Linked DNA regions of Homo sapiens: all the other regions are linked to region 1. The links come from fine-mapping of genetic effects on gene expression. A gene starts in region 1. Each other region holds a variant in brackets. All regions are shown on one strand. Distances are from middle to middle.

Region 1 (2,667 bases):
CTTTTTTTGGTTTCATATATATATGTTGCCTAAGCTGGTCTCAAACTCCTGATCTCAAGCAATCCTCCTGCTTTGGCCTCCCAAAGTGCTGGGACTACAGAACACCTACACTTTTATACATTCTATATGCATCAAACAAACATATGTCTGTGACAAGAGAGCAGCCTATCACAGCCCAGAGACTTCAGAATGGGGACAGGTTGGAAGGAGGAGCTACCTATCCCTGAGATGATGAAGAGGACCAGTGCCCATTCCAGGAGACATCACCGCAGCCCTGAGGAATCGGCTATGGGCACCAGCAGGGCACAGTGCCACACCTCGCCAATGCCTTGTCCTCCTTTTCCATAGTGAGTCAGTCAGCAAGCGTCGCATTGCCCTGGGATCGGCACTGCACGTAGAAGTGAGTTCCACACTCTCTTCCTCCCATAGGGAGATCACTTTTCTCATTCTAAGGGTTCCAGGCACACTCACAATGGTGGCATTTGCTGAGCAGTGGCTTGAATAAAGGGCTCTCAGAAAGCAAGATGTAACTCAGAGCATAGGCTTGTCCTCCAGGGCACCCAGCCCCAGGAATGCTCTTGGGGAATGACCTGCAGCCTCCCAGTGAAAGAGAGAATAAAAGAAAGCCCCAGCAGGCGAGCTGGGCAGTAGAGAGTCCTGTAATTCCACCTTGGCAAGCACCATTTGCAAGAACGAACTGGGATAAGGTAAACAAAATATTGCCTAAAAGAGGCTTGTCCAAAGAAGTCAGAATACGCTCTTCATTTACCTCTAAATTATGTTTCTTAAATACCAAGTAACCTGCAGTACCCCCTGCCGCCACCAAAAAAAAAGAGAGAAATACTTTTTTTTCTCCTATCCACTGCAGAATCAATTTTACAGTGGTTCTGCAGTTAATCCTTTCAGTACACCATAAATCTAAATACTCAAAAAAACCTGTGCCTTTTCAATTGCTACTAAATCACGAGAAGACTGATTTACATAGTCTCCTTTTATCTCCCTTGGCGGGTAAGTACTCAGCTCTGCTCGTTACTAATATTGAAACAACAGCCCTTGAATTGAGTGATTTCCCTAGAAAGGTTAAGGTGACCGAATCTGAACACTCCCTCCATGTCTTGGACACGAAGTTTTTTGCTGCGTAGACAGTTTTATCCCCCTCACCCCAAGGTCAATTGCACGAATTCTTTTGGAAAACAGGACCTATGGCATTTCCCAGACAAATCACCGTGAACCCTGTACTGTGCATTGCTGTCCTAAAATTAACACATAAATCTATTGCCGCCAAAGATTCTGTCATTTGTGTTACATAATTGCCTTTCATTTGAACTCATTAATCAAATTGGGGTTTTTAAGCAACACCTAATTAATTCTTTAACTGGCTCATATTATACCTTTAATGACTTCCACCAGGGTAAAAACCACTGATCACTGAGTTCTATTTTGAAACTACGGACGTCGAGTTTCCTCTTTCACCCAGAATTTTCAGATCTTGTTTAAAAAGTTGGGTGTGGTTTCATGGGGGGAGGGGGAAGAGCGAGAGGAGACCAGAGGGACGGGGGCGGGGACTCTGCAAGAAAAACCTTCCCGGTGCAATCGTGATCTGGGAGGCCCACGTATGGCGCCTCTCCAAAGGCTGCAGAAGTTTCTTGCTAACAAAAAGTCCGCACATTCGAGCAAAGACAGGCTTTAGCGAGTTATTAAAAACTTAGGGGCGCTCTTGTCCCCCACAGGGCCCGACCGCACACAGCAAGGCGATGGCCCAGCTGTAAGTTGGTAGCACTGAGAACTAGCAGCGCGCGCGGAGCCCGCTGAGACTTGAATCAATCTGGTCTAACGGTTTCCCCTAAACCGCTAGGAGCCCTCAATCGGCGGGACAGCAGGGCGCGGTGAGTCACCGCCGGTGACTAAGCGACCCCACCCCTCTCCCTCGGGCTTTCCTCTGCCACCGCCGTCTCGCAACTCCCGCCGTCCGAAGCTGGACTGAGCCCGTTAGGTCCCTCGACAGAACCTCCCCTCCCCCCAACATCTCTCCGCCAAGGCAAGTCGATGGACAGAGGCGCGGGCCGGAGCAGCCCCCCTTTCCAAGCGGGCGGCGCGCGAGGCTGCGGCGAGGCCTGAGCCCTGCGTTCCTGCGCTGTGCGCGCCCCCACCCCGCGTTCCAATCTCAGGCGCTCTTTGTTTCTTTCTCCGCGACTTCAGATCTGAGGGATTCCTTACTCTTTCCTCTTCCCGCTCCTTTGCCCGCGGGTCTCCCCGCCTGACCGCAGCCCCGAGACCGCCGCGCACCTCCTCCCACGCCCCTTTGGCGTGGTGCCACCGGACCCCTCTGGTTCAGTCCCAGGCGGACCCCCCCCTCACCGCGCGACCCCGCCTTTTTCAGCACCCCAGGGTGAGCCCAGCTCAGACTATCATCCGGAAAGCCCCCAAAAGTCCCAGCCCAGCGCTGAAGTAACGGGACCATGCCCAGTCCCAGGCCCCGGAGCAGGAAGGCTCGAGGGCGCCCCCACCCCACCCGCCCACCCTCCCCGCTTCTCGCTAGGTCCCTATTGGCTGGCGCGCTCCGCGGCTGGGATGGCAGTGGGAGGGGACCCTCTTTCCTAACGGGGTTATAAAAACAGCGCCCTCGGCGGGGTCCAGTCCTCTGCCACTCTCGCTCCGAGGTCCCCG
Region 2 (2,500 bases), 280 kb before region 1:
AAAAATGAAAAGGCAAGTTACAGACCGGGGTGGGGAAATGGGAGATAATCGTAAAGCATTTATCTAGCAAGGGACTCAAAGTTGAAATATAAAAGGAATTCCTACAGATAATGAAAAAACAACCAAATTAAAAGTGGACAAAGGGCTTGAACAGATATTCATAAAAGAAGACAAGAAAATGGCTACCAAGAATGTGAAAAGTACTCTGCATGATTAGTCATCAGAGCAATGCAACTTAAATACCACAGTCAGATATCATTCCACACCCATCATAAGGGCTAAAATTAAAAGGCTGACAAGATCAATTGTTGACAAGCGTGCAAAGCAACTGAAGTCTTATATATTCCTCGTGGGACTGCATACTGACATAGCCACTTTGAATAATTATTTGGGAGTTTCTCATAAAATTAAATGTACATCCAATTAATGCCCAGAAATTCCACCCCTAAATATATACCCAAAGAAAATAAAAACACATGACCAAGGTAGTATCCTGAATATAAAATAACTCCTGCAACTCGAAAATTAAAAACAAATAACCCAATTAAAATGGAAAACAAACCGAATACACATTTCTCCAAAGAAGATTTATGAATGGCCAATAAAAACATGAAAAGATTTTCAAACATTATTAGTCATTAGAGAAATGCAAATCAAAACCACAAAGAGATAACACTACAAACCACCAGGAAGACTATTATTTAAAAATAGAAAATAAGAAGTGCTGATGAGGATATGGAGAAATTAGAACTCTTACGCATTACTAACGGGAATGTAAAATAGTCCATCCCTATAAAAAAGTTTGGTGGTTCCTCAAAAAGTTAAACATAGTATTATCATATGAACCAGCAATTTCACTTCTAGGTTTATACCCCAATGAAATGAAAGCATGAACAAACAGGAAAGGGGAAAGGGTAAAGGAAAAAGGGAAGGGAAGGGAAGGGAAAAGGAAGGGAAGGGAAGGGAAAAGGAAGGGAAGGGGGAAGGGGAAGGGGAAGGGAA[A/AGGAAG]GGAAGGGAAGGGAAGGGAGGGGAACGGAAGGCAAGGGGAAGGGGAAGGGGAAAGGAAAGGAAAAATGTACTTCTCTGTCATGTGTATCTTTCTGTTAATGCTCAACATTATCCATGGCAAGATTTTACTTTATGCTAAGTATAGTGCTCCCCTGGGGCTCTATCTCAGCTAATGGAGGAGAATAGTTAGAGATAACCAGCCTGGAGGCTCTGACCACCTCAAGCCCTACCACTAATCAATATACCAGGCACATCTCTGGTCACTCCCTGCCTACCAGACCACAGGGGTGAAGTAACTGGTCAGCTCTGCTCTAACCTAGCTCTCAAGCCAGATACTAGCATTGGTAGGTCTCTAACCAAATCAGTAAGCCTGGTGGTAAGCTGGTGGCTCTCAGAATCCCACCAAGGTGGGTCACTACAGTATAGACCATCTGGACTAGACTAGATGGAATTTTCACAGCAAGCTATAACTGATAATTGAAATCAGGATATATCCACATCAGACAAAACAAACCACATATTTGTCTCCTTTGACAATCTGATGATTTATAACACAATATTTCTATCTTCAATCTTTTTTTTATTTTGCAAGGAATTGGTCTAAATCCATCTTTGGGATGGCTGCCAACTTTTGTGTATACATTCAGGCTCAATTTTATTACTCATAATATGATCAACAATGTGAAATACGCAAAATTGTTTTCTTCTGCTTCTCAGAAAGCAGAAAGGGAAGAAAGGGAGATCATTTTCCTCAGAACGTAAATTACACGAAGTTGCCTCTAAAATCTTTCTATGCAAAGTGCATAATCCAGCAACATCGGCATCACCGGAGAGCTTGTTTGAAACAAGGAATCTGGCCCCACCAACCAACTCAGTGAGAAAGTGAATTTCAGCAAGATCCTAGATGATCAACATGCACATTAGCATTCTGTCCGATGCTCCAGAAGATTACAAAGTGAAGGTCTTTTCTAAGTACTTGACTACTGCAATCCAGTGCTAGATGGCAGAAAAGACATTCCGTTGGACATGGTGGTAGGCAAATACCTAGAAGGATTAAATTAAACTATAAAAAAAGCTTTATTATGCTTGGAAGTCTTTGCTTTAGGCTGGTACATTTTATAAGCAACTACACCCTTTGGCTTAGATCTGTTAGTAAATGTAGGATGTGGAACAAAAATAGTACAATCACTGTTTCTTATTATCTCATTCTGATTCTTGAACTGAGACCTATCACTTTCTAAAAGCACTCTGCAAGTATAAAATACAATTTCTGTCAATTCCCTGCCCACCAAACCGCAGGGGTGAAGTAACTGGTCAGAAAGATTGCACTGCACTTTGAATAGAAAGATTTTAGAGACAACTGCATGTAATTTACCTTCTGAGGAAAATGATCTCCCTTTCTTCCCTTTCTGCTTTCTGAGAAGCAGAAGAAAACAATTTACCATATTCACATTTTTGGTCATATTATGGGTAATAAATGGTTAAATATATGTCTTAC
Region 3 (2,500 bases), 100 kb before region 1:
CCGGTTATTTTACCGGTGATTCTTATCTTTGGTCCCTCGAGGTGAGCCTTTGAAATATAATCATCTGCTGCTGCTGCCCCTCCTCCCATGGGTTAAGGTGACTGAACTCCTGCTCCAAGTCCCTTTGTTAGAAATGTGGCCAGCTAAGACATATCTTTCACCCTGGTGCTCACCTGACTGCTTTCAGCCCAGATCACAAACAGACCTACCTTTGTCTACATCTACATCTACATAACCTGGGGAATCTGACCCTATGTCAGCTACCAGTTTGAATCTTGTTAAGATTTTTACTGCCTTTGGGTGCAGAGAAAACTTCTTTTTTTTCTTTTTTCTTTTTTCTTTTCTTTTTGATTTTTTTTTCTTTTTTTTGAGACGGAGTCTTGCTCTGTCGCCCAGGCTGGAGTGCAGTGGCGCGATCTCCGCTCACTGCAGGCGCTGCCTCCTGGGTCCATGCCATTCTCCTGCCTCAGCCTCCTAAGTAGCTGGGACTACAGGCGCCCGCCACCACGCCCAGCTAATTTTTTGTATTTTTAGTAGAGACGGGGTTTCACCGTGTTAGCCAGGATGGTCTCGATCTCCTGACCTCGTGATCCGCCCGCCTCAGCCTCCTAAAGTGCTGGGATTACAGGTGTGAGCCACCGCGCCCAGCCAGAGAAAACTTCTTTAGAGGGAACACTTGATTATGCAATGATGGCCACTTTATGAATTTCACTCATAGTCCAATTGTCTGGGTTTTGGTTGGTATCGTTGTTTTGTTTGTTTGTTTGTTTTTGAGATGGAGCCTCGGTCTGTCACCCAGGCTGGAGTGCAGTGGTATGATCTCAGCTCACTGCAACCTCCACCTCTTGGGTTGAAGCGATTCTCATGCCTCAGCCTCCTCAGTAGCTGGGACTACAGGAATGTCCCACTACGCCTGGCTAATTTTCCTATTTTTAGTAGAGACAGGGTTCCACCATGTTGACCAGGCTGATCTCAAACTCCCGACCTCACATGATCCACCTGCCTCGGCCTCCTAAAGTGCTGGGATTACAGGCGTGAGCCACCGTACCCAACCTAATTCTCTG[C/T]TTTTAAAAAGTTAAAATAGGGGCAAACTGTTGATTACATTTCATATATATGTATGCACACACATACATATATATTATATATGTGTCTATATATATGCACATACATACACACACACATACAAATACAACATACTATATACAGTGACTCATAAAAAAAAATTACGTCTGTTTCCTTCATTTTATGGATGAAATAGAAAGCCAGAGGATAGCCAACTGACTCAATACCATTTTCTGCAAAGCACATTCCTTCTCCACTTTGGTCATAAATTAGATGACCACACGTCTGGGGGTCTCTTTATGAACCCTGTTTTATTCCATTATTCTATTTTTCTCTTTGTGCTAGCACAACAATTGGCTCTGTCCATCATAGAATGCTCTTTAAAACATTAACCACAAACTCATTCAAAGGTTTTCTGTCAGACAAAAGCAACACTGTCTGGGGACTAAAATCTTAAAAGCCTACAGGGGCCTAGTAGAAAATGAAATCAGGAGTCAGGAGGAAGACAATAGGGAGTGGTGGGGACTGTGGTGGCCAGAGAGCATTTGCCCTATCCAAAGGCACAAAGCATTCACATTTGAAAATCATTCAACATTCCTCCTGAGGGATGAGGGTAGGAGGACTGGCTGAGCGAATATAATGAAGCCCTCCAGGAGACAAAACTTGAGTGCAGTGTCACGGTCCACAGCACTATTCTTTACTCATTTTCTTTCGCTTAACTACTCTCTTAAAAATGACAGCTGAGGGGTCAATGTATTATCTAAGTGGAGAAAAGGAATACACGAACTTGATCATCAAATGACAAAAAGGTTTGCAGCAGCAATCCTTGCCAGAATGGTGGGACCTGCCTCAATCTGCATGAGTCCTTTTTTTTGTATCTGTCCTTCACAGTGGGACAGATCAAACTTAAAAGTAGAGGAAAATGCTTGAAGCATGAGCAAAACAGATGAAGAATATTTTTGCAGAAATTCTTACACTGGAATCCCCAGATTTTTATGCAAAATTTTAAACATGAAGAGATTCTGTACATTTCTCTGCATAGAAGGTTACAGCTTCCATGAAAGTCTTTAAAAGGTCAGCTTCCTACAAAAGGGGTAAGAAGCCTAAGTTTACATAGATCAGTCTACAAGCATGTAGTACAGTTATACAATGTTTTCTGTAAGAAACTGTTCAAGTTTAATTACCAGCAAATGTCATTTTAAGAAAATTCGGACTATTTTGTGATACACCTAGACTTCCGAGCTTAGCGTCAGAGAGGATGCTTGCTTTCCGAGCCCCAGTCCCTGATGGGAGAATCAGCAAGTTGGGAGATCACTAGCTGACCAAGCACAGCACACACAGCTAAAGGGTGATGGTAAAGGATGTGGGCTGTGGGCTGCAAACTCAGGGTCAGAAGCCCTAACAGGCTCGGAGACCTCAGCCTTGTCATTTCATCTGT

The links.
Region 2: its variant is fine-mapped to the expression of VIM in whole blood (INTERVAL, PIP 0.99).
Region 3: its variant is fine-mapped to the expression of VIM in unexposed skin (GTEx, PIP 0.98).

What each region holds. Positions count from the first base shown.
Region 1 is chr10:17,226,639-17,229,305 of GRCh38, forward strand. It overlaps VIM (vimentin), which reads left to right and starts at 1,603. Exons shown (of 10, transcript NM_003380.5): 1 at 1,603-1,886; 2 at 2,638-2,667. The region is part of intron 1 of VIM-AS1 (VIM antisense RNA 1); the gene reads right to left. RefSeq lists a silencer at 82-296.
Region 2 is chr10:16,941,861-16,944,360 of GRCh38, forward strand. All of the region lies in intron 36 of CUBN (cubilin), which reads right to left. Among named protein-coding and RNA genes, the nearest start is that of RSU1, 130 kb to the left of the region's middle. The variant A/AGGAAG (reference allele first, on the strand shown) is at 1,003.
Region 3 is chr10:17,124,078-17,126,577 of GRCh38, forward strand. The region is part of intron 4 of CUBN (cubilin); the gene reads right to left. Among named protein-coding and RNA genes, the nearest start is that of CUBN, 4.5 kb to the right of the region's middle. The variant C/T (reference allele first, on the strand shown) is at 1,065.